Linked DNA regions of Homo sapiens. The protein of the gene in region 2 purifies or fractionates together with the protein of the main gene of each other region. This does not show direct contact. Each region holds a gene or a part of one and is shown on either strand. Other genes may lie near its edges.

Region 1 (3,654 bases), on a different chromosome or scaffold from region 2:
AAGAGCAAAACTCCGTCTCAAAAAAAAAAAAAAAAAAATCATCAACAGAATGGAATTGTGGTATATCCCTACAAGCAGAATATGTAACAGTAAAATGACTAAACTACAGCTACATTTGTCAGCCTGAGTGAATCTTAAAAAGAATACTGAACAAAGAACACAGAAAAATACATGTAGTATGATTCAATTTATATAAAATTCAAATACAGGCAAAACCAAACAACACTGTTTAAGAACAAATACATATGCAGTCAATCTGTAAAGAAAAGCAAGGGATTAACATGATATCCAGGACAGCAGTTACCTCTGGATGAGGGAGGGTAGAGGGAGAAAATAGGGAGCTTCAAAGAAGCAAGCATTCTCTTAAGCTATTGATATGGTTTGGCTCTGTGTCCCCACCCAAATCTCATCTCGATTTGTAATCCCCACGTGTCGAGAGAGGGACCTGGTGGGAGGTGATTGGATCATGGGGGCAGTTTCCCCCATACTGTTCTCATGATACTGAGTTCTCATGAGCTCTGATGGTTTAAAAGTGTGCCACTTTCTCTCTCTTTTGCCACCTTGTGAAGAAGGTGCCTGCCTCCCCTTCCCCTTCCTCCATGATTGTAAGTTTCCTAAGGCCTCCCCAGCCATGTGGAACTGTGAATCAATCAAACCTGTTTCCTTTATAAATTACCCAGTGTCAGGTAGCTCTTTATAGCCATATGAAAACGGAGCTATACAGTGTTATTATTTTTATTATTTAAATAACTAGTATTAAATATGTTATATACTTATGTATGTATGATCCACTTAACACTTTTTTTTAAAATACAGAGCTGTGTAAAAACATTGTTTGGGAAACTGAATTCATTCTGACAAAGGCACTGTTTGGGAAATATCATTCATTCTGGCTAGAGAATTTTAAAAGTAGGAACACAGCAGGAGATGAAGCTAGAAGCAGGGAAGCTACAGAAAATCTGACATGAGCCTCTGGGCAATAAGGAGCCATTGACAAGCTTTAGGCAGAAAGTGAGTGACATGATCAGGTTTGTCTTAAAAAGATAACATTAAAATTAAAAATTAGCTGAGTGTGGTGGCTCAAGCCTATAGAACTGGCTACTCAGGAGGCTCAGACAGGTGGATCACCTGAGCCCAGGAGTTTGAGGCTACAGTGAGCTATGATTGCGCCACTGCACTCCGGCCTGGGACAGGGCGAGACCCTGTCTCAAAAAAAGAAAAGAAAAAAGATAACTTTGATGACAATGTGTAGGATGGATTTGGGAGGAGCCAGCTGGGAAGCAGAGAGACAGATGAGTTCAGACAAGTTAGGAGGCGGCAGTCAAATGAGGTGGGAGAAATGGGGGCAGGGTGCCTGGCAGTGAGGATGAGAACGAAAATGTAACCGAGATCTATTTGTCCCTACAGCCCCAGCACCTGGAATGTTGTGAGTACTCAGTAAATGTTCCTTAAACTCCTGTCTCCTTAAACTAATGGAAGAGAGTGATTTCAAATGTAGGAGAGAATGGGTACACAGGCATGCATATTTACCTGCGGGGAGCTCAGAGCTGAGGCAAACGTTAAAGGATTTCACGCCCATGAAGACCTCTTTGTTTCTTTCCTTTTTTTTTTTTTGATAAACATGTTCTTTTTCCTACCCATTTTAAGTGTACAAGTCAAGGAATTTTAGTGGTTTCATAGTTATCACCACAATCTAATTCTAGAACATTTCTATCACCCTAAAAAGAAATCTCATAGGCCGGGCATGGTAGCTTACACCTGTAATCCCAGCACTTTGGGAGGCTGAGGTGAGCAAATCACTTGAGGCCAGGAGTTCAAGACCAGCCTGGCCAACATGGTAAAACCCCATCTCTACTAAAAGTACAAAAATTAGCCGGGTGTGGTGGTGCATGCCTGTGATTCCAGCTACTCAGGAGGCTGAGGCAGGAGAATCACTTGAATCTGGGAGGTGGAGGCTGCAGTGAGTTGAGATTGTGCCACTGCACTCCAGTCTGGGTGACAGAGTAAGATCCTATCTCCAAAAAATCCAAAAAAAAAAAAAAAAAAAAAAAAAAAAGAATTCTCTGGGAGGCATCCCCACTCTCAACACATGTGCTGACCACCCAGAGCCCAGGTGCCTTTCTGTTTCCCTGTGCTGGTGGGCAAAAATTTCCAGTCTACCCTCTCACTGAGGGCACAGCTCTCTCGGGGTCCCCAGCTTTATCTGGAGTTGTCCATTCCCATCCCCCACACACAAGGCACCAAAGGACTCTTGGTGACCCAGCTGGCAAATATCCTTAGGGCGGCCTGCTTACCACATTCGGTTTTTTTTTTTTTTTTTGAGATGGAGTCTCACTGTGTCACCCAGGCTGGAGTACAGTGGCACAATCTCAGCTCACTGCAACCTCCGCCTCCCGGGTTCAAGCGATTTGTCTGCCTCAGACTCCTAAGTAGCTGGGACTACAGGCGTGCGCCACCACGCCCGGCTGATTTTTTGTGTTTTTAGTAGAGACGGAGTTTCACCATGTTGGCCAGGCTGGTCTCGAACTCCTAACCTTGTGATCCACCCACCTCGGCCTCCCAAAGTGCTGGGATTACAGGTGTGAGCCACCGCACCCGGCCTCCTCTTCTTTATTTACTCTGTAAGAGAATTTCCCTTTCTTGCGAGCTGAACTATGTATTTTTATTTTTGTAATTTTTTTTTTATTTGAGACGGAGTCTTGCTGTGTCTCCCAGGCTAGAGTGCAGTGGTGCAATCTTGGCTCACTGCAACCTCTGCCTCCCGGGTACAAGCAATTCTCCTGCCTCAGCCTTCCAAGTAGCTGGGATTACAGGTGCCCGCTACCACACCAGGCTAATTTTTGTATTTTTAGTAGAGACGGGGTTTCACCATGTTGCCCAGGCTGGTCTAGAACTCCTGGCCTCAGGTGTTCCGCCCGCCTCAACCTCCCAAAGTGCTGGGATTACAGGCGTGAGCCACCACACCCAGCCCAAACTATGTACTTTTTAAAAGATCTTTATTTTTATCTAGCATTTCTAGACGTTTTATGGTGGGAAATCTTGGGTGGTTGTCTAGACTGACATGCTGTCTGAAACAAAGGTCCTTCCATCCCCAATTTAATTTAGAAAGAAACAATCTCAAACCAGTAATCGCTAGACTATCTCAAACAGGCACTGGCTTCGACCTTCCGACTCCAAGTCCCACACTGACTTCAGTAAAACTGAGCAGGGTGAGGGCTGCAAATGGGTCTGAAGCGGAGGTGTATGTAATTGAGTGGATATCTATCTGCTGCAAGTGATACAGCCAGCCCTAAGCAATGTTCTCAGACGTAGGATGTTAGGGAGCATCTACACTACTCTTTCCCATCACCCTCCCTAGGTTCTGCTGCAGCTGTAAGTATATATGTATGTATGTAAATGTGCACGTACATACACATAAACAGATATGTATTTTACCATGGCCAGCAACCATGGTAATGCTTAACCCTGACCCTCTAAATGCTTAAAATCAAAGCAAGATCCATACCCAAAAAAACTGTTAAGTAAATCAAAATCATAAAGAGGTGCACACAGAGGATCTCAGTAAGTGAGGGACTACGCCACAAAGACAATGTGCCTGCTAGAAAAGCAGAGCCCATAGGATGTGGGCACCACACCACTCCCGCACACATTCAC
Region 2 (3,654 bases):
TGATGGAAACTACATACAAATGAAACTTCAAAAGCATATAACTTAACTAGATATTAACAACTTTGTTAATACTCTTACCCATTATTAAGCGGTAGTCAAATGTTAAATCCATAAATAACTGTTACTGTTAAGGTATTCCTAATATAAGTGAAAGGTTAACTGAATCATTCAAATTGAAAATATTTATTCTCCATTAATGGTAAATCATTTTGCATTCAATACCCACATTGTTTTAGTTGGTACACTTAAACTGATTAGCATATAGGAATTTTATGACTTTTACCTTTGGCTTCTTTCCAAAGAGCCACAATTTGCCCTTGGCCTTTCCTACTGTGGTTTTGGCATCCATCTTCCCACTCTCCTGTTTGGATGCACTGATAGTCCCATCAGAAATGGTTCTATATATATGTTGACTGTAATCTTCAAATGGAAAGTCTCCTGGAGGTTCAAAACCAGATTTGAAGGAGTCTACCACCATTTGAGAGTCCTATACAAAAGAAACTAGGTTTTAAAACTGTTTCACTTGCTCATAATTCTACATCAGCTTTCATAACTTTTTCAGTACAAAAAAACAACAAATATAAGTTTAAATAAATAATTCCACAATAATCATTAAGGTAAATAATTTATTCCCATGAATGTGTAACAAACTCAAAGTATTTTAATCCCAAAAGAAAAATATACTTGCAAATTACAACTTAATTAATTTATAATATTCATAAAATGTTTTTACTTGGTAGCTTTAACCACCTGAAATTCATCTGAAGACTACTTAGCTGAAAAAGACCTAACTGACAAAAAGAATACAGAAAGAGGTTATTAACAAGTAGAAATTCTGAGAAGTTTCAAAGGAAAAAGGCTTTTTGCTTTAAAAGATAGATGTCAACAAAGAAGCTAATCTTTGGAATGAGGAAAGAACATCTAATTGTAAAAGAGAGTAAAAGATGAGTAGGAAAGGCTTTCTAACTCATCCAACATGGGAAAAGATAAATAAATTAAATATATACTGTGGAATGTTAACAGAGCAACAGGGAAAAGATCTCATAAACACTACTGAGTGCAAACAACATTTGAAAGTTTAATACCATGTATTTAAAATTTTTAAACTCACATAAATATTGTTTTTAGACATACATACCTCTACCTGAATGCTTTAGTGATACCTTAAACTCATTATTTTCAGAGTATCTCTACAAATTCCTCCCCACCCCTAACAACAACCTCTCTTTTGTTGCCTATTTCTGTTAACAGTACATTTTGCCCTTCATTTAGTCAAAAGTCATCCTTAAGTCATAGCTTACTTTTGTCAGTAATGCTACCCTCAGCAATAATTTGCTAAAGGGTAATTAGAGAGAAGAGGGCTGTAATGATATTGTATAAACTTGTATCCAGCCATGCTGAAAGCCAAAAATCCTCTTTTCTAAATTTAAGTGAGAATTCTATTAGCTGTAACAGAAAGGATCCTCACTAATATAATATCTACTTGATAGGTTCATGAAGACTAAAATATGTGACACATATCTGATATCCTGCAAACACCAGTTCTCTTCTCTTGCCACTGCCTTTCCTCAGTTTCTGCCAACCATGCTTTTTGATCACTCAATCAACATTTACTGAGATAAAAGACCCTAGTCCTTAATCAAGATACAATGTGATTACCTATCCTCAAGGGGAGGAGGGCTATGCTGTTTCATCTGCACATAATGCCCTCCTTCCTCCTCCTCATTGGTCATCACTCCATATGCTACCCACATTTCTTGATCCAGCTCAAGTGCTAAAGGCAACTCTAACCACATACTTCTCTAAATTTTCACTAAACTAATATAATAGTATAACACAATTTGTAACACACAGTTCCTAGGTTAGACTCTTTGATAAGAACTGAAAACTTAGTGGGAGAAGAGAGTTAGAAATCTTTTTTTTTTTTTTAAGAAAGAATTAGAACTTTTGCATGTAGAATGAATCTCAGAACTCAAAGGAATCTATTGCAAGACATTCTTCTACAGAATATAATTTAGAACCACACATCAGATTACTTTATCCCTTTCTCAACTCATTTCACTAACTTAAACTGCACACCTAAACCAAACAGATGCATTCAAAGATAATTATTTAGCACTTACTCTTCTTTCATCAACTGATTTTGCTGCAAGAATCATTCCTTCCAAACATTTTGAAATGATGGGAATAACTTTGCGTTCTGAGTCAGCAAATCCTCTGTAACACTCACTGAGTTTAATAGTCCTTCGTTCGTCCATTTCTTGTAGTTGCTAATAATCAAGAATTTTTTTAAAAAGAGAAAACTGAATTTTTCAATCATTCTAAAGGAGTTCAATTAGTGATCCCCCATCAAAAATTAAATATTTCTACCCTCATAGTTACACTGTTGTTAATACCTTTTAACAAGTGCTATTGACTTATAATACTTAAAACCTGGGACATGCTAAACAACAAAAGAAAGAAAAAAAATAGTAAGGCACTTAGTATTGTTTTCCTAAAACCAGATGACACTGGGATTCTAGCCTTCTAAAAGGACCCCTTACTGGCTATCAGCTCCCTGCCCCATAGCACTCCCACCTTTTACTATTCAATCAGAGTAGTTCTTGTTTATGCTTCCAGAAAACATTTCATTTGATGACAAAATTCTGGTGCTTTTTTTTTTTTTTAAAGCAACTGGCCCATAACATATACAAGACTGAGACTTTTTTTTTTTTTTTTTTTTGAGGCGGAGTCTCGCTCTGTCGCCAGGCTGGATGGAGTGCAGTTGCGCGATCTCGGCTCACTGCAACCTCCACCTCCCAGGTTCAAGCAATTCTCCTGCCTCGGTCTCTCAAGTAGCTGGGACTACAGGCACGTGCCACCATGCCCAGCTAATTTTTGTATTTTTAGTAGCGATGGGGTTTCACCATGTTGGCCAGGATGGTCTCAATCTCTTGACCTCGTGATCCACCTGCCTCGGCCTCCCAAAGTGCTGGGATTACAGGCGTGAGCCACTGCCCCCGGCCAAGTCTGAGACTTCTAACCTCAAGTTAATTCAGGATACTTTGGTAAGACTTGGCTGGACCAACAGTCCATACTAGTTGTTTATCAACAGGTACCCAGACCTACTGCAGTGTACACCTCAGAGCTGGGGATACGTGAGGAAAAACAGGAAGTCACAAGCTCAAAGTGGCACATATAGAATCCTCACAACTGAAAATTCACTGGCACATGCCACTAGGAAATATGTTGGAACACATAAAGTCCAATAACTTAAAGGCATTTTTTTTTTGACATATCCTATTTGCCAGCACTGACCTTGCTGTTTCATTGACAGCAGTTACACTCCTTGTCTCCCCAAACTCCCACAGCCTGGGACTTTGAGACCTGCATTTTCACAGAATTGCTCCATAGAAAGGTCCAAATCCAAGTATCAGGCCCAAAACACAAAAGGTAGTTTATCTCCACAAGTTATAGTTTCCCCAGAATATGAAGACTTAACTACTAAGCCTAGAAAAGCATCACAGTGAAGACTGGCAGGCTTGGCCCTCTGGATTCAATGACCAGAATTCTGGTCCCCACTCCAGTTCATTATCTCTCACTGTGCTTTCTTTGTATTTCCAACTTGCCTTATAAAGAAGAAAAAGTGTACCCGGGCTGACACTCTTCCCACAG

Evidence for each region. The genes of interacting proteins can lie anywhere in the genome.
Region 1: the proteins of FNBP1L (region 2) and ATP6AP2 purify together in Homo sapiens (affinity purification with western blotting, with the first as the bait; one study listed by BioGRID). This does not show direct contact.

What each region holds. Positions count from the first base shown.
Region 1 is NC_000023.11:40,601,316-40,604,969, reverse strand, and holds part of ATP6AP2 (renin receptor precursor), read right to left. Parts: intron 1-3,654. UniProt on the Homo sapiens protein: Multifunctional protein which functions as a renin, prorenin cellular receptor and is involved in the assembly of the lysosomal proton-transporting V-type ATPase (V-ATPase) and the acidification of the endo-lysosomal system.
Region 2 is NC_000001.11:93,531,538-93,535,191, reverse strand, and holds part of FNBP1L (formin-binding protein 1-like), read right to left. Parts: intron 2,271-3,654; coding exon 2,124-2,270; intron 488-2,123; coding exon 284-487; intron 1-283. UniProt on the Homo sapiens protein: Required to coordinate membrane tubulation with reorganization of the actin cytoskeleton during endocytosis. May bind to lipids such as phosphatidylinositol 4,5-bisphosphate and phosphatidylserine and promote membrane invagination and the formation of tubules.